Homo sapiens: one gene and its partners. The protein of the gene in region 1 interacts with the protein of each later gene in a biochemical or structural test. Each region holds a gene or a part of one and is shown in the gene's direction. Other genes may lie near its edges.

Evidence for each region.
Region 2: the proteins of NUMA1 (region 1) and TNKS form a complex in vitro, tested with the Homo sapiens proteins (one study listed by BioGRID).
Region 3: the proteins of NUMA1 (region 1) and EPB41L1 form a complex in vitro, tested with the Homo sapiens proteins (one study listed by BioGRID).
Region 4: the proteins of NUMA1 (region 1) and EMILIN1 form a complex in vitro, tested with the Homo sapiens proteins (one study listed by BioGRID).

The regions. Positions count from the first base shown.
Region 1 is NC_000011.10:72,070,446-72,077,581, reverse strand, and holds part of NUMA1 (nuclear mitotic apparatus protein 1), read left to right. Parts: intron 1-5,279; exon of another isoform or gene 5,280-5,354; intron 5,355-7,136. UniProt on the Homo sapiens protein: Microtubule (MT)-binding protein that plays a role in the formation and maintenance of the spindle poles and the alignement and the segregation of chromosomes during mitotic cell division.
Region 2 is NC_000008.11:9,747,912-9,755,047, forward strand, and holds part of TNKS (poly [ADP-ribose] polymerase tankyrase-1), read left to right. Parts: intron 1-112; coding exon 113-301; intron 302-3,697; coding exon 3,698-3,935; intron 3,936-4,632; coding exon 4,633-4,715; intron 4,716-7,136.
Region 3 is NC_000020.11:36,150,207-36,157,740, forward strand, and holds the start of EPB41L1 (band 4.1-like protein 1), read left to right. Parts: upstream 1-4,533; 5' UTR 4,534-4,690; intron 4,691-4,856; exon of another isoform or gene 4,857-5,048; intron 5,049-5,389; exon of another isoform or gene 5,390-5,554; intron 5,555-7,534. UniProt on the Homo sapiens protein: May function to confer stability and plasticity to neuronal membrane via multiple interactions, including the spectrin-actin-based cytoskeleton, integral membrane channels and membrane-associated guanylate kinases.
Region 4 is NC_000002.12:27,074,114-27,081,750, forward strand, and holds the start of EMILIN1 (EMILIN-1 precursor), read left to right. Parts: upstream 1-4,501; 5' UTR 4,502-4,952; coding exon 4,953-5,122; intron 5,123-6,037; coding exon 6,038-6,157; intron 6,158-6,618; coding exon 6,619-6,839; intron 6,840-7,637. UniProt on the Homo sapiens protein: Involved in elastic and collagen fibers formation. It is required for EFEMP2 deposition into the extracellular matrix, and collagen network assembly and cross-linking via protein-lysine 6-oxidase/LOX activity.

The DNA.
Region 1 (7,136 bases):
CGGCCTCTCAGAGTGCTGGGATTATAGGCATGAGCCACTGTGCCCAGCTCACTTTCAGTCTTGATTGGTAGTTTAGCTGGGTACTAGGCTTCCAATTATTGTCTCTTAGCACTTTGAAAGTGTTTTTTCATTGAAATTCTGGCTTTTTGTTGTTACTCTTGAGAACTATGCTTGCAAATTAACTTATTTTATTGTGGGTAACCTGTCTTTCTTTCTGTTTGTTTTTAAGATCTTCTTTGCTGTCATTTGTGTTCTGTACTTCCATTACATGGTGTGAATTTAATTTTCTTAAATCACTATATACTGGGGGCATATAGTAATTCCTTAATCTGAAATTTCATATCTTTTCACTAATTGTGTAAAAATTCCCAATCATTACCTCTTTACCTCTCTCAGATCTCATGCGTAACTTATGTTGAACTTCCTCATTCTGTCGTCTACATCTTATTCTTTCTTTCATAATTTCCATTTCTATCTTTCTGTGTTAACTTCTGGATAATTTCCTTATATCTATCTTCTAGTATACTAGTTTACTCTTCAGCTAGGTCTAATTTGTTTTTTGAATTCTTATTTTTATTAGCTAACTTTTTCATTTATTAGAAGTGCTCTTTGGTTCATTTTCAAATCTGCTTGTTTTTCGTGATCTTGTTTTTGTCTCATGTTTTCAATTTTGTGTCTGTAATAATTTTCAAGAAAGTTGAGTTTTGGCAGATGTCTACACCTGTAAACAGCAGCCATAATCAAGATACAGAGGATTTCTCTCACCCCCAAAAGATTTCTCATGCTTTTTTTTTTTTAAGATGGATTTTACTCTTATTCTCCAGGCTGGAGTCCAGTGGTGCAATCTCGGCTCCCTGCAACCTCTGCCTCCTGGGTTCAAGCGATTCTCCTGCCTCAGCCTCCTGAGTAGCTGGGATTACAGGCATGCACCACCATGCCCAGCTAATTTTGTATTTTTAATAGAAATGGGGTTTCACCATGTTGGTCAGGCTGATCTTGAACTGCCAACCTCAGGTAATCTGCCCTCCTCGGCCTCCCAAAGTGCTGGGATTACAGGCGTGAGCCACCGTGCCCGGCTCTCATACTTCTTTACAGTCCGTTTTTCCTTTCACCCTGATACCAGGAACCACTGATCGTTTGTTTGTTTTTCACTACATATTAATGTCTGCTTCCTAGAATTTTATTTTATTTTATTTTATTTTTTGAGATAGGATCTGTCTGGCTTTGTTGCCCAGGTTGGAGTGCAGTTGCAGGATCTTGGCTCACTGCAACCTCTGCCTCCTGGGCTCAAGCAGTCCGCCCACCTCAGCCTCCCAAGTAGCTGGGACTACAGGTGCACACCACCATACCCGGCAAATTTTTATATTTTCTGTAGAGACAGGGTTTTGCCATGTTGCCCGGGCTGGTCTCGAACTCCTGGGCTCAAGCAATCCACCCACCTCAGCCTCCCAATGTGCTGGGATTACTGGCGTGAGCCACTTCACCCAGCCTGTTTTGAATTCCTAGACGGTTTTTCCCTCCTTTCTCACTAGGTGAGCAAGGCAAGTTTTTTATTTCTCTCTGGACAGATTTTTTTTCCTAGTCTATTATCTTACTGAGTATAAACTTAAGAATCTCAGCCTCTGCACAGGGATCTCAGTGCCTTTTGTGGACTCAAGATCTGTCTTCTGAACCTATGAGGGTGTTACAAATTCCATACACGGCTAGGACAGCTATGTCATCAGCTCGCTAATCCTCCTCACTAATTTGTTTCTGGTTCCTGGGGATTTTTCTTACTTTCTTGAGAGCTCAGTTTATCTATATGTCAGTTCAGATCCAATCAGCAAAACAGAAACCACACAATAGAGTGAACTCCATAAAGGAGATTGATTTAAACCCTTGGTGGAGGGCTGAAAAAGCAGAAAGGGAATATTAAAGTAACTTCAATATAATAACTGCATAAAGAATTTTTCTCATCCAGGACTGAAAAACAAAGGGAGGAAGGTTGGGGCTACCAGAACCTAGAAGTCTAGAGGGATCTGGAATAGCTGTACCCAGATTCTCTGGAGAGGGTGTTACCTGGTGCTGCTGGTTTCTCAGGCCCTTATAGGAGGAACCTGGAGGAGCTGGCTTCTGTTGAGCCTTACTTAGCTGATGCTGGTGCCTTTGAGGGGCAGGAGGCTGGTTTTGGGAGTTTAGAAGGCAACTGGGAAGAACCAACTTCTGTTGTCAAGAAACACCAGGCTACAAGAAGGAGGAAGTCCCTTGTAGCCTTCTCTTGTCTTCTGTTTTCCCCTTAGCACCCCCTGTTGACAGGGATCCAGCTGGCAAATGTGAAATGGGGTTTAGTGGAGTCCAGGCCCCAGCATCACAAAGCGGAGCATAACAGGGTAGATTTGGAGCTGAGAGACAATACCTTAATAGCTGGCACAGTCTAGAAGGATGTTTATTATATTTTTCTGAGCACTTCTAGGCATATTTAGTAGGAAGGGCTTCAGGTTATCTGGTCTGTTTTTTGTATTGTATATTATTTTTATTTTATTTATTTATTTATTTATTTATTTATTTTGAGATGGAGTCTCACTCTGTCGCCCAGGCTGGAGTGCAATTGCACAGTCTTGGCTCACTGCAACCTCCGCCTCTCGGGCTCAAGTGATTCTCCTGTCTCAGCCTCCCAAGTAGCTGGGATTACAGGCACGTGCCACTGCAACCAGCTAATTTTTGTATTTTTAGTAGAGACAGGGTTTGACCATGTTGCCCAGGCTGGTCTCGAACTCCTGACCTCAGGTGATCCACCCGCCTCAGCCTCCCAAAGTGCTGGGATTACAGGCGTGAGCCATTGCACCCAGCCTGTTTGTTATTTTGAGACAGAGTCTTGCTCTGTCACTCTGGCTGGAGTGCAGTGGCGTCATCATAGCTCACTGCAGCCTCGATCTCCTGGACTCAAGCTATCCTCCCACCTCAGCCTGCTGAGTAGCTGGAACTACAAGTGCACGCCACTGTGCCTGGCAACTCTTTTTATTTTTAGTAGAGACGAGGTCTCACTATGTTGCCCAGGCTGGTCTCAAACTCTTGAGCTCAAGCAGTTCTCTCAAAGTGCTGGGATTACAAGCACAAACCACCACACCCAGCCTGGTCTGTTGTATCAACATTTAGTAATAGCAATAGGTAACATTTTTTTTCCAGCGTATATTGTGAACTAGGCACTGTTCTAAGTACTTTACAGAAACTACTTCTTTTTATTTTTTTTGAGATGGAGCCTCTCTCTATCACCCAGACTGGAGTACAGTGGTGTGATTTCTGCTCACTGCAACTTCCACCTCCCAGGTTCAAATGATTCTCCTGCCTCAGCCTCCCGAGTAACTGGGATTACAGGCGCACACCACTACCGTCTGGTTAATTTTTTTTGAGATGGAGTTTCGCTCCTGGTGCCCAGGCTGGAGTGCAATGGCGTGATCTTGGCTCACTGCAACCTCTGCCTCCTGGGTTCAAGCGATTCTCCTGCCTTATCCTCCTGAGTAGCTGGGATTACAGGCATGCGCCACCAAGCCTAGCTAATTTTTTTTGTATTTTTAGTAGAGACGGGTTTCCCCATGTTGGCCAGTCTGGTCTTGAACTCCTGACCTCAGGTGATCCACCTGCCTCAGCCTCCCAAAGTGCTGGGATTACAGGCCTGATCCACCGCAGCCAGCCTCGGAAGCTACTTCTTAAAGCTCTGTGAGCTAAGTTCTATTATTACTATTCTCTTTTACAGGGAAGGCAACTGAGGCACAGGTAGATTAATCTCCCCAAAGCCACACAGTTTATAAGTGGTGGAGTTGACATCCTAATCCAAGCATTCTGGGTTCTACATCCCACATTCTGAACTTCTACAACATGCTGAAATTTCTTCCCTGTGGCAAACCAAAATCAGTCTTCCTGTAACTTCCACTCATTAGTTCTGGTTTTGTATTCTTATAGTGGACTCATAAGTCTTTCTCCTCATCTATGTGAAAGCTATGCGTATATTTGAAAAAAGTTTTCTTGTTCTCCCCTGGCTAAAAGTGTGTAGTTCTTCCTCCATATTTGAAATGATATACTTCTAGACCCTTTGCCATGGTCATTGGTGTTCTTCCTCTGCAAGTCCTCTAACTTTGCTCTTCAAAGGTGGGGCATAGAGTCATCTTCTACTAATGCAGCTTAAGACTGCATTGATGTTTTGGGTAGCTCTGTCAGATTCATGGTTTACTGAGAGTGTGCTTAATAATGGCCTCTCCTCTACCTCCTACTGTGGGCAACTTTTTTTTTTTTTTTTTTGAGACAGGGTCTCGCTCTGTCACCCAGGCTGGAGTGCAGTGGCTGTCTTCCCACCTCAGCCTCCTAAGTAGTGTAGCTGGGACTACACCCGGCTAATTTTTTTGATTTTTAGTAGAGACAAGGTCTTGCTGTGTTGCTCAGGCTAGTCTTGAACACCTGAGCTCAAGCAATCCTCCTGCCTCGGCCTCGCAAAGTGCTAGGTTTATGGGTGTAAGCCATTGTGCCTGGCCTAGGCAGCTTTTTTTTTTTTTTTTTTTTGAGACGGAGTCTCGCTCTGTGTCACCCAGGCTTGAGTGCAGTGGCGCGATCTCGGCTCACTGCAAGCTCCGCCTCCCAGGTTCACGCCATTCTCCTGCCTCAGCCTCCCCTCCCGAGTAGCTGGGACTACAGGCACCCGCCACCGCGCCCAGCTAATTTTTTGTATCTTTAGTAGAGACGGGGTTTCACCGTGGTCTCTATCTCCTGACAGTGTGATCCGCCCGCCTTGGCCTCCCAAAGTGCTGGGATTACAGGCGTGAGCCACCGTGCCTGGCCAGGGGAATAGTTTTGACAATTCCTCTGGCAAATTGGAGGAGGAGCTGTCTAGAAAGGCCAGTATCTTGGGTCTCATTGAGGGGAGGAGAGAACCAAGGTAAAGGGTTGGCTATTAGGTAATCAGTCGCGGTAATAAGGGGCCATTTGGCAGAAGTAAAAATGAGGTATCTGATGGCTGTAGAAGGGAGAGAAGGCATTATTGCATAGCATGCTCCTGGGTTGAGGCCTCTGTTGGCAGCTGTGTCGCCTGCCCTTTCTGTCCTATTGAAGGGCCAGTTTCTTTGAAGTCTGCACAGGAAATACCAGTGATTCAGCCTTGCAGATTTCTTCTGCCTTATTGCAGCTGAGGACTGGTTTATCTGGTGAGGAGGAAAGACTGCATATATTTCAGGCATGTTTATTTGATACTTGAGTGCCTTCCTGTGACTGGCCAGAGACACTTGTTTTGCAGATTGTCAAATTTTTGGTACCCGGTGGCAAGGTGGATGCAATGTGACCTCAACTCTTGGTCCTCTGAGGTCACATTGTATCCACCTTACCACTGGGTACTAACGTGTGGGCAGCAGCTGCATTCTGCCTAGCGAGTGGGCATTTGTTCAGTGCCTGTACTTCTGTGATGGCCTCAATGAGGAGTGAGGTAATTGCCTGCTTTTCTAGATTTCCTGTGGTGTGACAATGTGAGTTTTGGAGAAACCTCTTATTCCCTAAGAATTTCCTACTATACCCCTCATGAGCTGCAGCAAAGTGGACTCTGTCTGATTGCTGACCTCCAAATGCCCAGTTTCCTTAGGTAGTGAGCAGATACCTAAAGTAATGAGTGCCTATTATATCTGTCACAGAGCTGAGTATATAAAAAAGTATATAATACAGGATTTCCCTCCTTACTAAATTATTTTATTTTGAAAATTTTCAAACCTATAGATATTTTGCAAAATAATGTAACAAATACTTATATACTTCTCATTTAGAGTCACTATTAACATTTTGCCAAATTTGCTGTCTATTTATCCTTCATTTTCTGAATCTTTTTGACTGTTAGATGTAAATATCATGTTATTTAATCCCTATTTCAGCAAGTATTTCCTAAGAAAAAGGTATCTTCCTATATAACTACAGTACTATTAACACTCAGGAAACTTAACATTGATTCAATACATCCAGTATATAATACTTGTTCAGATTTCTCATCTTTTCCCAGTGATGTCTTTTATTGAGTTTTTTAAAATTCAGGATTCATTGAAGGATCATGCATGTATTTATGCACTTAGTTGTCATGACTATCATGTCTTTAGTCTGCTTTAACTTTGAACAGTTCTTTTTTAATCTGAATGCCTTTTTGTCTTTCATAGCATTTGTCTGATTCTTCTTGATTAGATTCAGGTTAGGCATTTTTGGTAGAAGAACTATATAGATTAATACAATAGTTTGATTGATGAGGCTGACACTAAAATACATAGAAGCAGTATCTGATTTTGCAAGACAGTATATAATTTAGCACTTATTTGTGTTGTCTAATCTATAAACCCTATAGGAATTTACAGAAGAAGGAATTCAGTAGGACTTGGATAACTAGGAATGAAATACTTTGGCAGAAAGATGGGGTTTGGAAAATGAACAGAATTGGAGGCAGTTGGGATATGGTTAGATAAGCTGTGATTTGGGCTTCCCATCCTACTATTAAGGTTGTGTATCATGAAAAGTGACTTTGAGGGTTCTGTATCTTCCATGGTGTTTGCACTGCTAGAAGCCTAATGGTGTAGAGCTCTTGCTTTGGCATCAGACAGGTCTAGAGACTGTGCCCAGCATTTTGCCAGTTACCTAACCTTGGGGAAGTTTTCTCATTTGCAAGATAGAGTATTAATAACTATTTAAAAGGTTATCGTGATGCTCACAGTGAGACACTACATAAATATTTGAATTAAAATATTTGAATGCCTTTAGGGGGGTGCAGCGTTTCCTAGATCTGCCATGTGCCCCACTGGATCATTCATTTTGTTTTGTTTGGATACGTGGTTTCGCTCTGTTGCCCAGGCTGGAGTCCAGTGGCACGGTCTCAGCTCACTGCAGCCTCCCAAGTGGGTGGGACCCAGGCACACTCCACCACACCTAGCTAATTTTTTGTATTTTTGTAGAGACGGAGTTTTACTATGTTGCCCAGGTTGGTCTGGAACTCCTGAGCTCAAGCGATCTGCCCACCTTGGCTTCCCAAAGTGCTGGGATTACCGCTGTGAGCCACTGGGCCTTGCCTGGATAATTTGTTTCTGTTACCTGCCTGACCCCTGAAGATGTTTGAATTTACCACTCCTGGATAATTGAAAGCAGGGAAA
Region 2 (7,136 bases), on another chromosome or scaffold:
ATGAAAATGGAGATACAGAGGAGTGAATTGTTAAATAAAAACAGGTATACACAATGGTGCTTTACCAGATGATCTCATTCTTAACTCTTTGTATCCTTTTCTTTTTTTTCAGCATGTTGACATAGCGGCTTTATTGATAAAATACAACACGTGTGTAAATGCAACAGATAAGTGGGCGTTTACTCCCCTCCATGAAGCAGCCCAGAAAGGAAGGACGCAGCTGTGCGCCCTCCTCCTAGCGCATGGTGCAGACCCCACCATGAAGAACCAGGAAGGCCAGACGCCTCTGGATCTGGCAACAGTAAGTCCTCATTTCAGATACTGATTATTGTTCCTTCTACTTTCACAGATGACATCAGATTCTCGGGTTCACCAGCTTACTTTTAGTCGTGTTTATTTCACTTAGAACAGAGATCTTCTGAAAATTTTTGAAGTTCACACTTTTTCTATGAAAATATAATTTAAAACTCTTAAGACAAACTAAACAGTAAGTTAATTTAATTTTTTGCCATTCTTAGCCTGCTGGGAAAACATGGATCTTAAGAAAACATGTTTTTAGAGTGTACCCTCAAAGAATTATATTTAGTAAAATATCTTGTACCTTCTATATTTGGCATGTTATTGTAGAGCAACTAATGTTCATGATAATTTACCTAAGTCTGTGAGATAGTCAAAGAAAAATTAACTCTGGGCAGTATTATTTAACTGCAAAGTTAAGCACTGCATCATCTTCCGTGAACTTTCTGAAAACCAGGGAGTTACTGTATAGTCACAGTAATTTCTAATTTTTAAGCCAGAAATGTTTTTTCAAGTTATGTTCTGTTTCATTTATTGATTGCTGCGTAACAAACTGTTTCAAAACACCCAGTGGCTTAAAATAATAATGACTTATTATTTCTTATGATTCTGTATGTTGGCTAGGAGATTCTTCTGGTCTTACCTGGGGTCACTTGTGCAACTGCATATAGCTGGTGGCTGGGGCAGAAACATAAAGACGGCTTCATTCATATGCCTGGGGCCTTGACAGATACAACTAGAAGGCAGGGGCCTCTCTAGTCCCATGTGGCATCTCATCATTAAGTGGTCTTGTTAGAATTTCTTCACAGAATAATTGTATCTCAAGAGGGAGAAAGCAGAGGCTGTCATTGTTCTTTAAGGCTAAGCCTGGAACTGACATGCTGTCACTTCTGCCACATTCTGTTGTGCAAAGCAAGTCATGAAGTCAGCTCAGGTTCAAGGGATAGGAAAACAGATTCCACCTTCTTTGAAAGGAGAAGCAAAAATTTCGTGGCCATCTTTAATCAGCCACAGTCTTCCCTGTGAATACAAATTAAATCTATTTTTCCCACATTCAAATTACACTCACCTGCCACGTGCTCCCCCCACCAACAGGGGGCAGATAGTCATCACTGGGTCCTTAGCAATTCTAAAATTCAGCCAGACACATGTTATCAGGGCCATCTACTCTGGAGTTAGGGAATGATCCCTGATTAGGGCCCAGTTCTGCTCCCAGGGAGTGGTTCACTGTGGCTGTCTTTTTTTTTCCTTTTTTTTCTTTTCTTTTTTTTTTTTTTCCCCCTTAAGACACAGTCTGGCTATGTCACCCAAGCCAGAGTGCAGTGGCGTGATCATGGCTCACCACAACCCCAACCTCTTAGATTCAAGCCATCCTCGTATCTCAATCTCCTGAGTAGCTGGGACTACAGGCACATGCCACTATGCCTGGCTATTTTTTTTGTTTTTACTTTTTGTAGAGACAGGGTCTTGCTATGTTGCCCAGGTTAGTCTTGAACTTCTGGGCTCCTCCCTCAGCCTCCTTCCTCAGCCTCCCAAAGTGCTGGGATTACAGGTGTGAACCACTGTACATAGCCTCTGTAGCTCTTGGCCATGCCCTCTGAATTATCCTTCTCTTTTCATAAGAAATGGATCATATTTACAGCCAAGTGGCTTTCTCAACCTGTTCCCTGCTCCTAGAAATTTTCGGGACCCTGAGCCTTTTATCATTTTGATCTACCTGTCCCTTTTAGTCCAAACTAGTACAACTCTTCCTTTGTAAACTTTTGGATTTCCCATCAAATTACACACCACTCCATCAGCCAAAAGCTCCACCCACAAATCTTTTCAAGACAGGTCCCTCTCTAACATGGAATCCAAGTAAAGGTGCAGTGGGACAATGCCCATAAGATCCTTTGAAGCTCTTTCATCTAGCCAAGGGAATTCACAAGGTACCACCTTAGAGGTTTTTTAAAGATTTTGAGGTAATATATCTGTACCTCTAGTTGATTTTTATTCTGAGGCCATGTTTTCCTGTCAGCACGCTGGATTTGACCTTTGGCCTGAGGCTGTGCCTTACTTGAAGAAACTTTTGCTGATGGAGAGGCTGGGAATGGTGAATAATTTTGTTTTCTAAGCTAGCAAATGTTAGGTGAATACATTTCCTTAAAGAGAACTGGACAGTTCCTTTCTCTCTTCCTGTACCTTATCATGGGCAGATAAACACACCAGTCCAGTTGACAAGGCAGAATTTGTTCTGGAAATTTCCTTAGCCAAATTTACAAATTTATTTAGGTTTACGTTCTACCTTCCGTAAGACCTCCTGTGGCAGCGTTGCCAAACTTTCTGCTACACAGCATTAGTCCCCTTTCTCTCGCCTTCAGTAGCACTTGCCTATCTATCTTCCATTCACAGCCTCCCTCAGCAATAACCAGGCCACCCTTCACGCCTCCAACCAAAGCCACATGTCCACCAGCACCCCACTTCCAGGTACTGGTGTGCATTTCATTTCTCTATTGCTGCCCACTAAGCCACCCCCAAACCCACTGAGGGTTTAACGTGACAATTTATTATTTCTCACACGTCTGGGAGTTGACTGGGCTCAGCTGGGTGGTTCTGGTTTTGCAGTTACCTGCACCTGGGAACTCAGCAGAGGCTGGAGCTTCCAAGATGGCCTTTCATCCCGCAGGGCTCTCCCTGCATAGGATCTCACCACTCAGTAGTCTAGCCCAAACTTCTGTACAACATGGCAGATGGCTTCTAAGAGAGTAAAAGTAGACACTGCCAATCCACTTAAAGCCTGGCTCAAAAGCCTCAGAATGTCACTTCTTCTCCATTCTATTGGTCAAGACAACTCACAGGGCAAACCACATTCGGCGGGTAGGGGGCAGAAATTCAAGGGGAGGCATACATGACGGGAGGAAGGAATTGATGGGTGGCTGTCTTTGGAGACTATCTCCCGCATACTCGAAAAGCAGTTGCATCTAATACTTAAAAACTGAAAAGTTTATGAATAAATGAGCTAAATTAAAGTGTCATCCCTTTGAAATTTCACCAGATGTTAATTGTACATGAAATTATTAAGTGTGAAGTAAATAACCAGATTATAGCTGTTTAAACGTAAACAAAATATAGTAAACACAGAAATTTTTTCTAAAGAAGGGTGACAGTTAACACTGAAAGTGCTTTTTTTTAAATGAAAGAAGAAATATCTTTAAAAATTACATAGTTTCTCCAATTCTGTCTACTGAAACTATTGAAACTCTTTGGAGCTGTGGATAGGAGAAGGAATGATCAAAAACCAGTAGGTGATAATGAGGCATTCATTAAGGAAAAAATCCACAAAGTATTTGGTTATCAGTGAAAAACTTACCATTTTAATATATAGTATTTTCATGGTTTTTGTTTTTAATCATTTTTTTAGGCTGACGATATCAGAGCTTTGCTGATAGATGCCATGCCCCCAGAGGCCTTACCTACCTGTTTTAAACCTCAGGCTACTGTAGTGAGTGCCTCTCTGATCTCACCAGCATCCACCCCCTCCTGCCTCTCGGCTGCCAGCAGCATAGACAACCTCACTGGCCCTTTAGCAGAGTTGGCCGTAGGAGGAGCCTCCAATGCAGGGGATGGCGCCGCGGGAACAGAAAGGAAGGAAGGAGAAGGTGAGTAGACCCCATGAATGCTTATTTATTTATACCTTTTGTTAGTGGAGCAGAATGACTTTTTTCTATTGATAACTATTGAATGCCTCAATTAGAGACGTCCTGTCTGTAAATTTTCATACACACAACATCTTACAAGAAATATTTCTTCATAGAAGGCTGCCACGTTTCTTGGCATTGTCGTTGTTCTTATTTCTGTATATTCTAGAGCATCTGTTTACAACCATAGCATCTTATTGAACCACTTATACTGAAATTGTGTCAGAACACAACTGAGAGGTCATTTCAGGAATGAAAACTAAAATGATAGCTGATACATTTAGATTTTTTAATTCATTAAAAGCTTTAGATGTTTCTATATAAGTAGCATTCTGTAGTATAAGAATTATACTATAATGTTAAAATTAGTATAATATTCTCTATATTTTTATAAATTACAATAAGTTATAATTCTATATTCTAACCATAATATTAGAATACAAATACTAATTTGATAAAGATAAAACACTCTGTTTTTACTTCCCAATCAACTTCAGAAATAAAGTGTCTAAATTAAATCTGTGTATTCTGTATTATTTTATGCCATGGAAAATCATCTGACAGCCAAGGTTGTCAGAGTCATGTCTAAATGGATACTGAAATTTTCTTTATATTTAGAGAATTCTTTCTGAGAATCTTTAATATGTTTCTGTTTTAGTTGCTGGTCTTGACATGAATATCAGCCAATTTCTAAAAAGCCTTGGCCTTGAACACCTTCGGGATATCTTTGAAACAGAACAGGTAAATACTCTTGTATATATTTGAGTCATTTAAATTAAATACTAAGATTAGGCTGGATGCAGTGGTTCACACCTTACTCCCAACACTTTGGAATGCTTCGGCAGGATTGCTTGAGCCCAGGAGTTTGAGACCAGCCTGGGCAACAAAGCGAGACCCCCATCTCTACAAAAAAAAAAGTTTTTAAGTTAGCTGAGCATGGTGACTTACTGGGCCCCTGTAGTGCTAGCTGCTGGGAAGCTGAAGCAGGAAGATCATGTGAGCCCAGGAGTTTGAAACTGCAGTGAGCTGTGATTGTGCCACTGCATTCTAGCTTTGGCGACAAAACAAAACCCTATCTCGAAAAAAAAAAAAAAAAGAAAGACTTATTAATTGCCACCCACCTCTTCCTCTTTTGCTTCTTACGAGCTATTCTTAAACCCACAACACATTTCTATAAGAAGCCAGAGGAGCCCAGTATTTTATACTTCTCCCCAAAATTGTCTAACAAATGAGTCTTTATTTTATCTTTATAAGCAGTCTAGCACTATGCATTTTATTACATGTCAAAACTTAGACCATGCAACTACCTCAAAAGAATGTTTTCATGATTGTCCTTGGTTGTTTGTTTCCGAAAAATGTCAGTCTTTATTCATCTCATTTCATTATTCATGTGACTAGGCTCCTGAAGCAGTTGCCCATTAATTTGGAAAGCACAGTAGTACTTAGACAACTGCACTTTTAAAAAATTGCCCCTTTATGAAGTTTCTGTTGTCCACTTGGAGTCTTAAATAATATTAAACCAAAAGTTGGCCATACATTCCAATAGACCCACCCTATTTTGGGATCCATCTTAAATGTCTGTGAAGGTCTAAGGATGGAGTCATCATTAGGGCATTTATGAATTAGGATTCTTCTGTTTGTTTTACTGTTTTCATACAGGATAAGGAGTTGTAATATTGTATGCTTTCATTATTATGATCAGCTTTAAATATTGAATGATGGTAACTCCTGAATTTAAATGGACTATTGATATACATGAAATTTAAGAATGGGAAAGGTGTTTAGAGAAAAATTATTCTCCCAGGTGTAGGGATCACCCTTGTATAATAACACCCATGTTAGTCCTCCAGCCAAGGAAGATATCTTGTTACAATTTGGGACAGGTGTAATAGAATGCTTGTAACTTAAAGTGTGCCAAAATCTGCCCGTAGGTATAATTCCTTTGTTTTCAGCTTACGCTTACGCTTACCCTGTTTTGCACAGAGATCTAATCTCCAGTCTACATATGTATTCAGTTTCAGAGGACTATACTCCCTACAGAGGCTGTAGGGGAGAATCTATTCCATGCCTCTTCCTGCTTCTGATGGTTGGCAGCTTCCTTGGCTTGTGGCCATGCTACTCCAGTCTCTGCATCCATCTTCACATTGCCTTCCTGTCCTCTCTATCTCTTCTAAGGACATTTGCATTGAATTTGAGGCCACCAGTATAATCCTGGGTGATCTCCTCATCTCTAGACCCTTAACATAATTTCGTCTGCAGACACTTTTCTTCCAAGGAAGGTGACATTCACAGGTTCTGGGGATTAGAACATAGACGTATCATTTTGAGGGCCACCATTCAGCCCACTACAACATAATATGGCCCTAGATATCTTTTTAAGACCTAGTCAACTTATCAGAGGTGTCACCCTTTCAATCACCCACCTCTACACATCTTCCCCTATTTTAGAATAAATCTGTTTTTTCAATTATTCTTTATATGACATAATTTTCCAGTATTTCACTGGCACCTTTGGCCCATTATGGTTCCCTTCTAGGCTTATAGTCAGTTTGGAGTTAACTTAAAAACCAGGTCTTTTTTCTTATTTATATCAATTATACTGTTAAGATTTTTTTTCTGCTTTCTCTCTTTTTTTTAGCTACATTTTTTCATTATAGTTCATCTTTAATGCTCTTAATGATAAGAACAGCCGAGTAGGGATAGCACTGGACTAAAAGAAGACCTTAATTCTAATTATTTTTACCCTCTTACTAGCTGTGTAAAATTGGGCTGAATGACATTTATCCTATCACTTCCTTTACCTGTAAAACCTAATGCTTATAAATGTTCAGAGAGTTAAAATCCTCAGTAATATTGTGCTGCTGTGTCAGCTTTTAATACAGTGATGCATCACAGGTGCCTTTGCGTCTAATGGTTAGGACTTTATAGACTGCTGTCTATAAAATCATTTTCTTTTCCAACCATTTATTCATCCTCTGGTTTGGAGCTTTCTTAGGACAATATCCTAAATAGTAAGACTGCTTCATCCTTATTCCCTAACTGAAGGTGTGAAAGCTGATTTAAAACCATTATACTCTGCTGTTCCCATATTACAGCTATAGCTGTTCTTCCCAAATCATTTCCACAATAATTGTAAAATTTCAAACACATCTTTGCTAAATA
Region 3 (7,534 bases), on another chromosome or scaffold:
ATTATAGGCACATGCCACCATGCCCGGCTAATTTTTGTATTTTTAGTAGAGATGGGGTTTTACCATGTTGGCCAGGCTGGTCTCGAACTCCTGACCTCAGGTAATCCGCCCACCTCGGCCTCCCAAAGTGCTGGGATTACAGGTGTGAGCCATGCCCGAGACATATTACATTCTTTTTGGTATGAAATCTTCAAAATCTGATTTTTATATTTACAGCACATTTTTATTTGAACGAGCCACATTTCAAGTGCTCCATAGCAACTAGCCATGGCTAGTAGCTACCATATTGGTTAGCACAGACCTAAAAACAGGGAGTTTATAAGGGTTGAAGCTCAGAGTTTGGCACCAGACATACCTGTCAGTCATATTCCGACCCTGCCATTTATTAGCTGGATGAACTTTGGGGTCGCTAACCCTTCTGAGCCTCAGTTACTTCAGCTGTGAAAGGGATTAATAATTTCAGTGCCAGAGAATTGCTTTGAGGATTAAACAAATGAATGTGTGTCCAGTGCCAGGCACAGAGGAAGTGCTCAGAAAATGGTGGTGCTTCACCTTCTAGTATCCTCTGATGTGCTGGGGTACGTGCCTCCACTAGATTGATTGTGAATTCAAGGGCAGAGGCTGTATTCAATTCCTCCAGCCTTCCCCAGTGTCCAGGGCCTGGCTTGGTGTGAGCATTACTGCTTGCTGAATGAAAGATTAAGTCCTTGGGCTGGGAGTGCTCCCCACCCCACCCTGCTTGCCCAGTAGTCAAGGGCCCTGGTGGCTGGGAGTCAGGAGACCACTGACTACTTGTGGGTGACCTTGGCAAGTCACTGCTTTGCTTAGAACCTTGGTTTCCTCCTTTGAAAGATAAAAGGGAGATAGGAGGGGCCCTGCCTGAAGTGTTTGGTTGAATCTCTGCCCCGCAGTGACCTTGGGGGTCTGTGGCTGACTCTGTGTCCCTTGCTTTCCCAGCCAGTGGAGCGAATCACTTCCGTTCTCCTCCTGGCTTTCCTGTATCCTGGACTTTTGCACCATTAAGTTCCATCCAGTTAAAATTTAAGAGGAAAGAATTTCTCCTGCCTCCTAGACAGAGCAGAGAGGGAATGAAGGGTCCTGTCCCTTCTCTTCTGCCAGCATCTGCTGACCTCCCATCACAGCAGCCCAGTGACAGACATGGGGCAGGGATTCTCCCATTTTATAGGTGAGAAAATTGAGGCTCAGAGATGTCAAATAACCTGCCTAAGTAATACAAAAAGAAATGGTAGCGCTAGGGCTGGAAGCAGAATTTGCAGCTAAGGAACTGAGGAACCCCTTTTTTGGATGGGCTCCTCTTTCCTTCTTTCTCCATGAGACTTGGTCCTAGGTTGAGTCCTATCCCTGTGCCTCAGTTTCCCTGCCTGGGGAATGAAAACAGTCAAGTAACTCAAGTAGTAATTGCAACTGATGCCTATGGGGGCCATACATTCTTAAGTGTCTCTCCTGCTTCCTCCAGCCTGATTTTTCTGGAAAGGGTTATTGTTGGGTAAAGTGGAAAGTATGTAGTCCAGGGAGCCAGTGTAACTGTGTAAGCGTAACCTTGGGCAAGTCACTCCCACTCTGAGCCTCAGCCTGCCTATTTATAAGATGGGGGCCGGGCGCGGTGGCTCACGCCTGTAATCCCAGCACTTTGGGAGGCCGAGGCGGGCGGATCACGAGGTCAGGAGATCGAGACCATCCTGGCTAACATGGTGAAACCCCATCTCTACTAAAAATGCAAAAAAAAATTAGCTGGGCATGGTGGTGGCAGGCGCCTGTAGTCCCAGCTACTCGGGAGGCTGAGGCAGGAGAATGGCGTGAACCCGAGAGGCGGAGCTTGCAGTGAGCCGAGATCGCGCCACTGCACTCCAGCCTGGGCAACAGAGCGAGACTCCGTCTCAAAAAAGAAAAAAAAAAAGATGAGGGATGATATTATCTCACAAGATGCTGTGCAGATGACACACAAAAGTATTTTGCAAACTGGAAAGTGCTAATAGAAATGTTAGTGAATAATAATAATAATCAAAATAATTAAAATAGCAGAAGCCTCATTTTCTGTGTGGTCTCAATGACCTGAAGTGAATTGAGCCCTTTGGGTATAAATGCAGAACGATGTCTGGGAACATCCTGCCTCGGTCTTTGGAGTGTAGCCTGGATTCTCCTGGGAAAGTGAGAGGCTCCATCTGGTTGAGGAGGGTGGGAAAGTGGCCCTGCCCCAGGGGAGGAGTGGGGAGGGCTTCAGCCTGGGGGAAGGAAGGAAAGGGAGATGGCCAGGGAAGGAGAGTTGAACTAAGAGGAACAGAGAGAGCCTTGGCCATGCAGCCCAGAGCCTCCTGCCCACGGGAGCCCACGATTGGGAAGGCTCAGCCAGCAGGGGAGACTGAGCCTATTTGGAATCAAAATACTTGAAGGCAGGCAGTCAAGAATCTCTTAGCAGCTGTGCATCTGAAACAATAAATGCATCTGGTATAACTCCTGAGTTTTATTGGTCCTTTCACTCATTCATTTAAATAAATGTGTGGTGAGCTAAACTCAAACAGAGCACCTTGTGTGGCAAAGTGACTTGCCCAAGGCCACGGCCCCAGGGGCCTGTGTGAGACTCCCTTGGGAGCTCCTGGGAAAAAGTGAATTTGAAAGGCCTGGGGATGAGAAGTCCAAAGGCAAAGGACAGGATTTGTACAGAAGGCTGCCAAGCAGGACACTCGTCCTTCTGTCAGTCGGCCTGGGCAGATTTGTCTGTCTTCCCACCTTCTGTCTGGAGGGTGGGCCTGTTCTCTAGGACTGGGAGAAGCTGGCTTCATTCTGCTCTCTGCTCTTCATCCGCTGCTGAACCTGGTGAGCAGGGGGAGTGAAGGCACCGGAAGCTTTGTCTAAAGACACCTGATGAAGGAGGTTTAAGTTGGAGAAGAGAAGGCTTGCTTTGGGCATGGTACAAAGGGACGCAATTGTATCTTGAGTTCTCTAAAGGGTGCTGAGGAGAGGGCATAGCCTCATTCTTTGGAGGCCCTAGAGTGCCTATGAGGACCCAGGGTAGAAGGTCACCATGATGGAGCAGCACACTGGGAGGGAGGAGTTGGGGGAGGGAGGTGCCTGGCTCTATAGTGTGTGACAAGCAGAGATGGAGAGCCCACTGGTGAGGCTGATACTGAGGGAATCGCATCAGGGAAGGATGGAGGGCTCAGCTCACATCGAGGCTGCTTCCCAGCTTGGGGCCTCTGTGCTTCCCAGGGCAGTGGATTCTGTGGTAAGAACTATGGCCAGCACATGGTAGGTACTTAGGAATGATGTGAAGAATGAATGAATAGTTGTGTATGCCTGGAGGTGAGGGTGGTGACTGGGGGTTCGCGGTCATATGGGTTGCAGTGGACCCATGGACAGAAATCTTTGGAGATCATGCTGCGGTTACCCACCATTCTCTCTATGCCTTCGCCATGAACTAGGGACCCTAGAGATAGGAACGTCCAGCCCTTTCGTCATTTGCAAATGAGGCCCAGAGCATGGAACAACTTGCCCAAGGGTACTTGCTGAGCCAGTGGCAGACCTGGACTGGAACCCAGGCCCTCTCCCTCCCAGAGTCCTCTGTGGCTTGAGGTCCCCACCTTCGGATTGTGTGAGATGGAGGTGCTGCAGTGGTTGGACTGGTTTTTTTAGTGGGTAACAGTGCTCCTGGAGGGGAGGAGCATGGCTTACCTTGGTTTTGAGCCATGATCTCTGCCACAAGCTGCTTGGCCAGCCCCTGCCCTTTCCTGGAGCTCAGGTGCACACTCAGCCTGTGCTCAGACACATACAGCAAGTGCGCCTGTACACAGGCCCCATCCCCAATAGGTCCCTGGGCTCTCACTGTTACACTTACTGTCATTGTCACCAAGGCGCATGTGGACAAATGTACACATAGACACCCTCTGGACACACTCAGAGGCACAGAGGATTCCCAGGAGACAGTTGTAATACCTCCTCCCGGTGGGGGAGGACGCCGAGTCCTAGGCGGGTTCTGCCCTGTCGCTGTGCTGCAGGGGTGGTGAGGGGATCCGGCTCCGGTGGGATGGGAGGCCCACTGAGGCTGAGTCACCCCTTCTGAGTCAGGCATGCATCCCCCTCTTCTCTCCTCCCCCTCCCTTTCTCGCTGATGAGCCCCCAAGAGGGCTTGGCGAGAGCAAGGAGGCCCGGGGCTGGCTAGGACCAGGGTGGGGGCAGCCGGGGCGCTCGAGAGGCCCCCCAGCTGCACAGTCCCGCAGTGGTCTGGGAACTGCCCGTGTGGCACGGACCGGGAGGAGGTGGCCTGGGAGCCTGAGAGAGAGGGCGGGGCGCGGGGGGAGGTGGGTGGTAGAGGAGACAGGCAGAGAGGAGGCGGAGGCAGGGGCAGGGCCGCGGCGCGCTGGGAGGCAGGCGCAAGCGGCGGCCGCCCCTGGGCTGGGCTCCGAGGCCGGGGCGGGGGCGGGGGCTGGCCGCGCGTCGGGCGCCAGGCCCGGGGCTGTGGGCACCGTGCCCAGCCCCTGGCGCACGCCGAGCCGCCGCCGCCGCCGCCGCTGCTGCAGTCGGCATCCATCAGCGGGCGGGGGTGTCGCCGAACAGGCTGCTCCGCAGAGCCCGCCGCGACCCCGCGCCGCCCCGCCCCGCGGCCTGCCTGCCAGAGGAGCCGAGGGGGCCGCCCCTCGCCCAACCTGCCCGACATGGGGAACCCCGGGCCCAGGTAGGCACATGGGGGAATCAGGTGGCTCTCGGGGCCGGGGGCTTGCAACATCTAGGCCCAGCCTCCAGCCCTGGGGAGGAACGGGGGCGAGGCCGAGAACTGAGTTTTCAGGCTGTTGGTCCCCTGGCCAGTGTGGGGGAGGGTCTCGCTGTTCCTCCCTACCTACCGGTCTGCAGCCTCCTCCAAGGCCTGGAGAGAGGATCCGGAGGCTGGGGGTTGGCGGGGGGTTGGTCCTGCTGTAGGATGAGCGGTGGGTGGGCGCTGGGCTCCCACCGGCTGGCCCAGTCTCTTTTCGGAGAGCACTCCTGCTGCCGCCTCCAGAGGCCAAGGGCTCTTTGGATTTCTGCTGCTTCTGACGCTGCAGGAGGAGTTCTTGGCTGGAGCCTGGGATGCTGGCGAGCCCTTGCCCTCATCTCTCCTCACTCTGGTTACGGACCCTTCCCCGCTCTGGGCTTGCCTCCCCTTCCGTCTCCCTTCCAAGTACCTCAGAGCTGCTAGGAGGGATCTTAGCCCTAGGACTTCTGCAGTTCTGGCCTGGCATTGTCCTGGCCAGTGACCGTCCCCTGATCAGAGGGAGAGGGCTTGTGTGTCCCACTTGTGTCTGGCACCTTCACACTTGGGGAGGTCCAAGGGCCCGAGAGGCTGGGGTCTCAGGGATGGGCATGGGGGGCCAATGTCTACAGCCATTGGGGTACTTACTGGGTGCAGAGGCCACTGACTGGCAGACGTATATGGCTCAAAGTGGTCCATGGAGACCTTGAAGTCTGGACAAGGACCAAAAGGGAGTTCTGGGGATGCTGGTCTCTCCCTCAGCTGCCAGCCATCGTCGTTGCTTTTCCCTCGGAGCTCTGAGGATGCATTGGTGGGGGAGAGAGCACCACGTGTTCCCACATTCACTTCTGGATCCGCATAGCACCTCCTCTGCACCCAAAGGTGGGAATGTGAGACGGCCAGATTTAGGACCTCTCCAGGGCTGTGCGGGGTCCAGCGGCTTGGCTTCATTCCCACCCCATCCCCCCACCCTCAGCATTAGGAGCCTTCCAGAATCAGTGGCACTTGAGCCAGGTCAAGATCTGGGGCCTGGATGGTGCCCTCCGCAGCTCTTGGAAGACAGTGCCTCCTGTCCCGGGCAAGGGTGTGGAGAATAGAGGCAGCTGTGTGCCTCTCTGCCCACCCATTCCTCCAGATGGAGCCTGCGGCAGAGGCAGCCTGTGCCAGCCTCCCCTATGAGCCACCGTGGCCCAGGAAGGCTCTGCCAGCTCTGTGCAAGGATGGAGCTGGCTTCTCCTGGCCAGCCTGAGGTCATGCCTGCCTGGCAACCCAGGCATAGTATTTATGGCATGCAGAGCACAGTCCCTGGGATTTCAGGGGCACCTCAAGGCAGTCCTGGAGGAGATCAGTGCAGAGGGCATTGTTCCTATTAAAGCCCTTCCTGGGCTATGTGACAGTCCTCCTGGGCTCAGCCCTGTGAGCTTCTTGAAGAGCTTCTTCCATAGAATCCTGCATGAAAACAATGCTTGGTCAGGTAGTCCTCACTCAGTCGATATTGAAAGGTTGAACGGGGCCTAGAGAGTAAGAGTGACTTGGCCAAGGTCACAAAGCAGCTGAGCGGGGGAGTCAGCATTAATGTACCCAGGTCTTCCACCTCTTGTTCTGGGGCTCTTGCAGCTCAGGTGCTGGCTTCCCTGCTGCGGTGGTTGTGCTATAGACAGGACTCTGCCAAGGGCTAGGCATTGTAGCCTGGAGCCTGAGGCTACCTGATCCCTTAGGAGGGGTGTTATGTTGGCCTCCCAGCCCTTGCCCTCAGTAGGTGAGCAGGAGAGGTCAGGGCTGAGAGAAAGGGCCGTGGGTGGTCCTGGACCCTCTTGGAAGTGCATAGAGCTGAGAGGATGCCAGGTGCCCAGGGATGTTCTGGCCTGAGCCTCCAGGGGGCAACAGAGAGTTTTCTGACTTCAGGCTGTGGTGGGAGGTGCTTGTTAGCACCTGCCGGGACTTCCCTAAGAGCCCCTTTCTGGGCTTCTCTGTCCCATTTGTTAAAAGGGGACACAGGCGTGCGCCATTGCGCACGCCTGTAATCCCAGCACTTTGGGAGGACGAGGCGGGCAGATCACAAGTTCAAGAGATGAAGACCATCCTGGCCAACATGGTGAAACCCCGTCTCTACTAAAAATACAAAAATTAGCTGGGCGTGGTAGTGCACGCCTATAGCCCCAGCAACTCGGGAGGCTGAGGCAGGAGAATCGCCTGACCCCAGGAGGCAGAGGTTGCAGTGAGCCGACATCGTGCCACTGCACTCCAGCCTGGAGACAGAGCGAGACTCCCTCTCAAAGAAAAAAAAAGGGCGGGGAGGATGATCATCTCTGCCTGGAGATAAATACCAATGATTACACAATCAAAGTGATAGTATTTATTGAAACTTACTGTATGCCATGTACTGCAAGAAGTGCTTTGAGTCATTTCACAGTAACCCTGTCAGATAGATGTGATTAATTATCCACTTTTTACAGAGGAGAAACTGAGGCTCAGAGAGGTTATGTCACTGGACTAAAGTTACGCAGCTGGAAAGTGCGAGGCGGTCTGAGTCCAGAGCCCTTCTTTCTACCATGACATTTACTGGGGGCAATATCTGGAAGTACCAGGTTGGTGTCCAGTGGAGCCAGGCAATTCATTGGTAGGCCAGGGCCAGTCCAGGTGGAGAGGTGTGTGAGGGGTGTGTGTGTGTGTGCCTGGTGAGGCAAGGGTGGCTTTGTGGACTGAATATTACTATAGTGCTGAGGGGTAGGGGTAGATAAGTACTGACTAGGAGCTCTCAGAGAAGGATTAGCCTTGGCCTTCTCCTTCCTG
Region 4 (7,637 bases), on another chromosome or scaffold:
TCTCTGTGATTAGTGTGACATTTTCAAGGAAAGGACATGAGGCCAGGATTAGGCTCAGGAGTGAGAAAGCAACAAGACCTGGGAGAAGGGGAACTGGGTTCAGGGAGGTCGGCTACTAAAGTATTAAACCTGGAGGAAGAGCTGAAAGGAAAAGTAAAGTGCATCTCTTTGGAGAAAAGTGGGCTTTTGCTCAAGACTCCCCACAAACTTGAAGTCCCATGTGGATTGGCATGACCCAAGGCCCAAATCACTTTTTTTTTTTTTTTTTTGAGATGAGTCTCACTCTATCACCCAGTCTGGAGTGCAGTGATGCGATCTCAGCTCATTGTAACCTCTGCCTCTCAGGTTCAAGTGATTCTCCTGCCTCAGCCTCCTGGGTAGCTGGGATTACAGGAGTGTGCCACCACACCCGGGTAATTTTTGTATTTTTAGTAGAAACAGGATTTCACCATGCTGGCCAGGCTGGTCTCCAACTCCTGACCTCAAGTGATCCGCCTGCCTCGGCCTCCAAAAGTGCTGGGATTACAGGCGTGAGCCACTGTGCCAGGCCCCAAATCATATTATTCCCCCTTTTTCCCTCCCAATATTCAGTCCTCTGACAGAGAGGCTAGACATAAAATGCTCCTTATTGCTGGTGCCCACGGCTGTCCTGACCCTGGTCATGAACTCTTGCTCAGTCAGTGAAGCTGAATGAATGAGTTCATTGCCATGTAGGGCCAATTGGCACTAGATGCTTGGAAATTACCCACCTTGGAGAGGTTGTAAAATAGATCATGTCCTAGTGCCACCAGCAACTTAGCTTTCTGGGGGGTCAGGAACTCTTACCAATTGCTTTGGAAATTTATGGCTGCCTGCCAGTACCACCACCAGCATGTCACTGCCACCATCACCACTACCACTGCACTCTAACTTTAGGCTCCATTGCACCCTGCTTGCCCACTCAAGCCAGCAAGGGGAAGCATCCTCCCTGGTGAACTCAGAGCCACTGATATGTTTGTGATTTCACAAACATTCATGACAGCTCCTAGGTCTCGTCTCCTAATTACATAAAGGCAAATGAAATGCAACCTACTGCAACTATATTTCAAAGCCAACATTTTTCACTGGATACACTTAAATTATACAATAGATTTTTGAATTTCAGAGGGTAGGAGAGGGAATGGGTAACAATTGGGCAGTGACAAGATGGCTGGGGTGACTTTTCAGGTTGCCAGAGGCTTCCTAAGGGTGAAGAGAGGGAGAAGAGCAGAGAGAGAAAACCCATAGCAGCAGCTGGGGCAATCTGGAGGGGAAGTGGGTTGGCTTCCTGCCAGGGCCAGAGCCAGAGCCTAGAGACCAGGGACAAAGCTGCAACCTTCCACCGAAAACTTCTTTGAAATCGGGATCTCCTGTGAACATTTCCTTCAAATCTCCCTGTGTGCTGATCCCCAGGGCTCTAAGGGGCAACTACAAATTTCCATTTCTGTTTGTTCCAGCATTTACTTTCACCAACCACCACCCCCCTTTTTTTTTTCTGAATCAGTCTCACTCTGTTGCACAGGCTAGAGTGCAGTGGCGTGATCTTGGCTCACTGCAGCCTCCGCCTCCTGGGCTCAAGTGATTTTCGTGCCTCAGCCTCCTGAGTAGCTGGGATTACAGGCACACACCACCACACTGGCTAATTCTTGTATTTTTAGTAGAGACAGGCTTTCGCCATGTTGGCCAGGATGGTCTCGAACTCTTGACCTTATGGGATCCACCCACCACGGCCTCCCAAAGTGCTGGGATTACAGGCATGAGCCATCGTGCCTGGCCTAATTTTTGTATTTTTAGTAGAGATGGGGTTTCACCATTTGGCCGGGCTGGTCTCAAACTCCTGACCTCAAGTGCTCTTCCCACCTCAGCCACCCAAAGTGCTAGGATTACAGGCGTGAGGCACCACACCCCGCCTGACCCTGTCTTTTCACAAACATTTCTCTTAGCCATCAAGGTCACATTCTGGGTCATAGGACATCAGAGGCAAGATGGTTCAGAGTTACATTGATGATTTGATGGCATTCATTCTCATGGCTTCCACCTATTGCCCTGCACATGTTGGAAGAATCAGTGGCCCACCATTGCTAACAATCCTAGACACTGGTTTCCACTAGGATGTGTTACTCTCATCTTAAATTCAGTATCTTCAAACTACGATCACTTTTCTTTCCTCCAAACCTGCTCTCTTCCCGACTTCCCCATCCTGGCTCAAATGCTGGAATCTTCCCTCGTGTCTCCCTTCATCTGGTCCCTCATTACTCAGGCAGTCACCAAGCCTCATTACTCAGGCAGTCACAAAGTTCCCTGCCTATCCATGGTCACTGTCACCACCAGAGCCCAAGTCTGCATCACTTTGCAATGTAGAATTTGGAAGGGACTTTAGATGACACATAGACTCCCAGTGGTGTCATGGGATTTGCTGGGTCATAGTGACAGGAGGAGCTGGGGCTACATTGCCTGTGTTCTGACACCGTATTCAGCGCTCTCACCCACAATACCTTCTTTCGTGTATGTGTATATGCTTCTACTCAAAAACTTGCAATACAACCTCATAACCAGTCATTTGAGCCTCTCCCTAATTTGTCCACAATCTACCTCTCTGAATTTCGGTCCCATTTTTTCCTGACACAAAAAAAAGAGCTAACATTGATTGAGCATTTACCATTTGCCAGACACTGTTCTAGAATGCTTTACATGCACTGACTTACTTAATCCTCACAAAGTGGGATGGAGAGTCCTGTTATTCCTGTGTTACAGCTGAGGAGACTGAGGCAGACCGCTCTTCCTGAGCCTGAAATCTCTCTCCTTGCCTTGTCTCTGTTCTTGACTCCTGCCCCCCACCCCCGCCCCCACCCCAATGCTGTTCAGCTTTTGTCTTTTCCAGCCTCTCCTCTGACTGTCTCCAGCAGCCAGCTGTCTTTTCCCTCCTCCTAGCTGGAACACACATCATCCCTCTGTCCTGCCCCTTGGCACTTTTTCTGTCCTGGCTTGTGACGGTTCTCTGTTTGGGGGCTTGTGTCCCATTCTCCAACAACCTCAGTTGCTCCTTAGTGGACAGCGTCTGGGTCTTACCTATGCCTTTGCTACCTGGGCACCTCCGCAGTGCCTGGCACACAGCATTCTCCTGTCTCCTTTCTGTCTAGTGCTTCTGTTTCTTTCTCCCAAGCATCCCACCAGCTGGAGACCCTGGTCAAGAGCTGCGGGTCAGATGGTGACGGGGACCAAGCTTTTAGATCAAGGTGGCGCAGGTGGAACTTTCAGGTCAGGCTGACGGCTCTTTGCCTGTCACTGAGAGCTATCAGACTTGCCTCCAGGCCAGGGACTGACTTCCTTTGGTGCTCTAAAGATAGGTCCCGATTTACCTCACCCCCACCCTCATCCAGTTATGGCCTGACCATCACCAAAACAAGCCCAGGACCCATTTTCATTTATCCCTTTAAGAAAGGTTCTTTCTCTTCCTGCCCACGTGCCCTCTACCGCTTGACAGAAGCCTGCTCCCCATTGCCAGGTGCTTTTCTTCCTCCTCCTCTTCTTCTTTTTTTTTTTTGAGACAGAGTCTCGCTCTGCCGCCCAGGCTGGAGTGCAGTGGTGTGATCTTGGCTCACTGCAACCTCCTCCTCCCGGGTTCAAGCGATTATCCTGCCTCAGCCTCCTGAGTAGCTGGGATTACAGGCGTGTGCCAACATGCCTGGCTAATTTTTGTATTTTTAGTAGAGATGGGGTTTCACCATGTTGGTCAGGCTGGTCTCGAACTCCTGACCTTGTGATCTGCCCACCTCAGCCTCCCAAAGAGCTGGGATTACAGGCGTGAGCCACCACACAAGGCCCTTTCTTCCTCTTCTGTCATCTGTGGATTTCCCATCTGCCTCAGTGGAGTCCTTGACCTTTTCCTCCCTGGCCCAGCAGCACATTCTCCTCTCCTCCTTTCTCCCAAGTCACTGACCTAGTATTTAGTGTGTGTTCTCAGCCTCACCATTGACTTGCTGTGTTACCTTGGACAAGTCACTCTCCCACTCTGACCTCAATTTTCACATCTCTAAAAGGAGACTGCTAGACTAGACGGTGAGTGAAGTCCTGCTGAGCCCTCCGAGTTCATTCTCCCTTGTCCAGTCAGTCCTTCCCTCCCACCCTCCCCTCTGGGCTCCCTCTCTGGGGCCCTCTCCCCCAGGGGAGGCCTGCTCCAGCCCCAGGGGAGCTGCGGCCCTGGCTCCTGTTCCCAGTCGGAGTGACCAGCCCTGGGCCTCCTTCCCAGCTTCGGCCCTGGCTCCATGTGGCCCATCTGAGAGGCTGGCCTCAAGCCCGGCGGCAACTCCACATTTCTGTTTTTCCTTTTTTTTCCCTCTTTCCCGGAGTTAACAAGAAGCAGATGTGGCGCACGATGGTTGGAGAGGTGGGGGGAGGAAGGGGGAGGCCGGACCGCCAGCCAGACAGGGGGGAAGGGAGGGGAGCCAGCAGGGAGGAGGAGGCCAGGGCCCGCCCCACAGCCACTCTCGCGCCTCCGAACAGCCACAGGGGCAAAGCCCTGTCACCCCCAGGATCCGGTCATCAGGGAAAGAGGACAGGGAGACCAGAAGAGGGCCAGCTGGGACGAGGGGGCGGACGCCCAGGAGGCAACTTCTGAGACGCAGCTCCTGAGAGGGGCAGGGACCAGGCGCGGGAGGCCAGAGGGGGCACAGAGAACAAACCCCCTCAGAAGTGAAGAGGAGAGCGGAAGGAACCGAGAGGGGACGGACAGGAGCTGAGGAGGAAAGAGGAGGGGAGAGGGGTCAGGCCAGGCAGCCAAGGAGAAGACGTGTGGCCGGGGGCTATCAGAAGGAAACTGGGACGGACGGGCCGGGCTCGGGCTGTCCTGTGGAGCAGCAGCATCCCCGGGGCCGGCAGAGGCGCCAGTGGCTGGGCGGGATGAGTCTCTGAGGGCCACTGTGGAGCGCCCCGCCATGGCCCCCCGCACCCTCTGGAGCTGCTACCTCTGCTGCCTGCTGACGGCAGCTGCAGGGGCCGCCAGCTACCCTCCTCGAGGTTTCAGCCTCTACACAGGTTCCAGTGGGGCCCTCAGCCCCGGGGGGCCCCAGGCCCAGATTGCCCCCCGGCCAGCCAGCCGCCACAGGTAAGAGTCTGGATCCCAGCCCGAGGCTTGGGTGGTGAGGAAGGGGTCAGAATGCCACCTCTGCCTGGCTCTCTGCTGTGTCCGCTAATGCAGGGCAGAGGGGGAGTGAGAAGCCCATCCATCAGGTGGCTCCTCACATGCCCACCTTCCCACGGGGCCTTTTCCAGGACCCCCTGAACACATATGTTCCTTGGGTCACCTAGGGGGTCCGCTCCCACATGCCCCAGGGAAGCTGCCCTGAGGGGAGCGGGCCAGGCCTTCCTGCCAGCTGCCCTCTGTATCCTAGCCCCAGAGCCTCAGGGAGAACTTTTGTCCCCTTCTAGGGCTCCCTTGACCCCATCCAGTAATCCATAATTCTGACACCACTCCAGCTCTGTTCCCTCCAGCCCTCCAGCCAGACACAGATCAGAGGCCGGAGTGAATGGGGCCAGGAGTATAGAACTGCAATCCCCAAGAGGGGCAGGCTCATCAATGGCTTATTCTCTACTTAACCCCAAGCTGGCCTGCCCGTCTTCTCCTGGAGGGGTGGGGTGGAAGCCAGTGTTCAGATCACCCACAGGGCCCGGGCTGGCTATGCGCACACAGCATGCCAATCTGGGGACTGAGACAGGCCCAGAAAGGGACACACATGATTGTGTACATTCAGAGGCTCCCCGGGACCCCACCACCATGAGGATTGACTGCTCTGTGGTTTTCCATTCTGCGCGTCTCCCCATCTTGAAAAGTCTTTATCTGCTCCTGCTACACAGGAAAGCGTGGGGGATAGGGAGGGTGGCGATGCCAAAGCCCTTGCTCTCACTGATCCCCAAGGGTTCTGCATCTTTGGAGCCTTCTTCAGCCCCTCTGGTAGCCCCTGGGCCCTCCTCCAGGGCATGTATCTTTGGTCCTTGGACCCAGAGGGGGTTGTACCTACAGGAACTGGTGTGCCTACGTGGTGACCCGGACAGTGAGCTGTGTCCTTGAGGATGGAGTGGAGACATATGTCAAGTACCAGCCTTGTGCCTGGGGCCAGCCCCAGTGTCCCCAAAGCATCATGTGAGTCCCAGGGCCGGGCAACGGGCCCTTGGTGGGAACTGGGCGAGGGCAGATGGTGGGTGGCTGACTCAGGGAGTCTGTATGAAGCAGGGAGCAAGGGCAGGACAGGGGCTAGGGTCACAGCCATTTTGAGGAGATACTGAGACAACAGTTTGGCTGGTGGGAGACTGAGGGCAAACCTGCCTCACGCGCCAGCCCCAGATGCCTTCTCTGGGATGGCTCAGGCTCAAGCAGAGGAGTTCAAGGTTCCAGCACAGGGCAAGGGAAGGAAGAGCAGGGATTTAACCCTTGGCCAAAAAGCTGACAGCTGTCAGCTAAGCAAGGCCACATGTTGGACAGTAAGAGGGACCCAGCCTGAGGGACAGGCCATGCCCACCAGCAGCTGCCCACCCCTGAGGACAGGGACCAGGGTCACTGACCGTACAGGGAGGAATAAAGAGGCCTCCTTCTGCCTCTGCCAGGTACCGCCGCTTCCTCCGCCCTCGCTACCGTGTGGCCTACAAGACAGTGACCGACATGGAGTGGAGGTGCTGTCAGGGTTATGGGGGCGATGACTGTGCTGAGAGTCCCGCTCCAGCGCTGGGGCCTGCGTCTTCCACACCACGGCCCCTGGCCCGGCCTGCCCGCCCCAACCTCTCTGGCTCCAGTGCAGGCAGCCCCCTCAGTGGACTGGGGGGAGAAGGTGAGTGTGGGAGCTGCTGCGAGGGTGGCAAGTTCCAAATGGTGATCCAATGCAATGGGAAATGTGGGGCCAGGCTGCTGGGGGAGTCCCCCGTGCTCTATGCCAGAGAGAAGAGAGGGGCAGAAGGGTTAGTGAGATCGCAGAGATTCCCTGCCCGTGTGTGTGTGTGTGTGTGTGTGTGTGTGTGTGTGTGTGTATTTGTGTGTCTGTGTGAGAGAGAGGGAGAGAGCACGCAAAAGATGGAGAGACTGAGAAAAAGAAGGCCAAAAAAGAGAAGGTGCTCGCACACGCCCCATGTGGCCAAGATCCTTCAAACAGCTGCAGGAGAAAGGGGCATTCCTTTGAGAAGCTTGGTCCGTGGGGACAGACAGTTGAGACTACAAATCCTAGCATGCATTGCACCTGACTACAGATCCCAGACCCCTCCGTGGCCTCTGGAGACCGCAGGTCCCAGCATGCAGCAGTTCCTGTGGCTTGCCTTCCCTCCTGCGTGCTGCACACCGGATGTGCTGTTTCCCTGCCCCGAGATAGCCTTACTATAATTATGCAAACAGGAACTCCTGGCCAACTCTCACCGTCCACAGAGCCTCTTCTTTGTCCCCGTGGTGTTGCAGGGAAGTGTCACCCAGTGGTAGCTACTGTTGTGGCATCCAGAGTGCCTCCCTACACTCCCATTTCGCCCCTCTTGACAGCCCCATGACAGAAGAGTGTCATTATCCTTTCGCAGAAGAGGAAAGAGTTTCCAAGAAGTTAAGAGGCACTCTGGGCAGGTGGAAAGGACATGGACCTGGGGGCTGG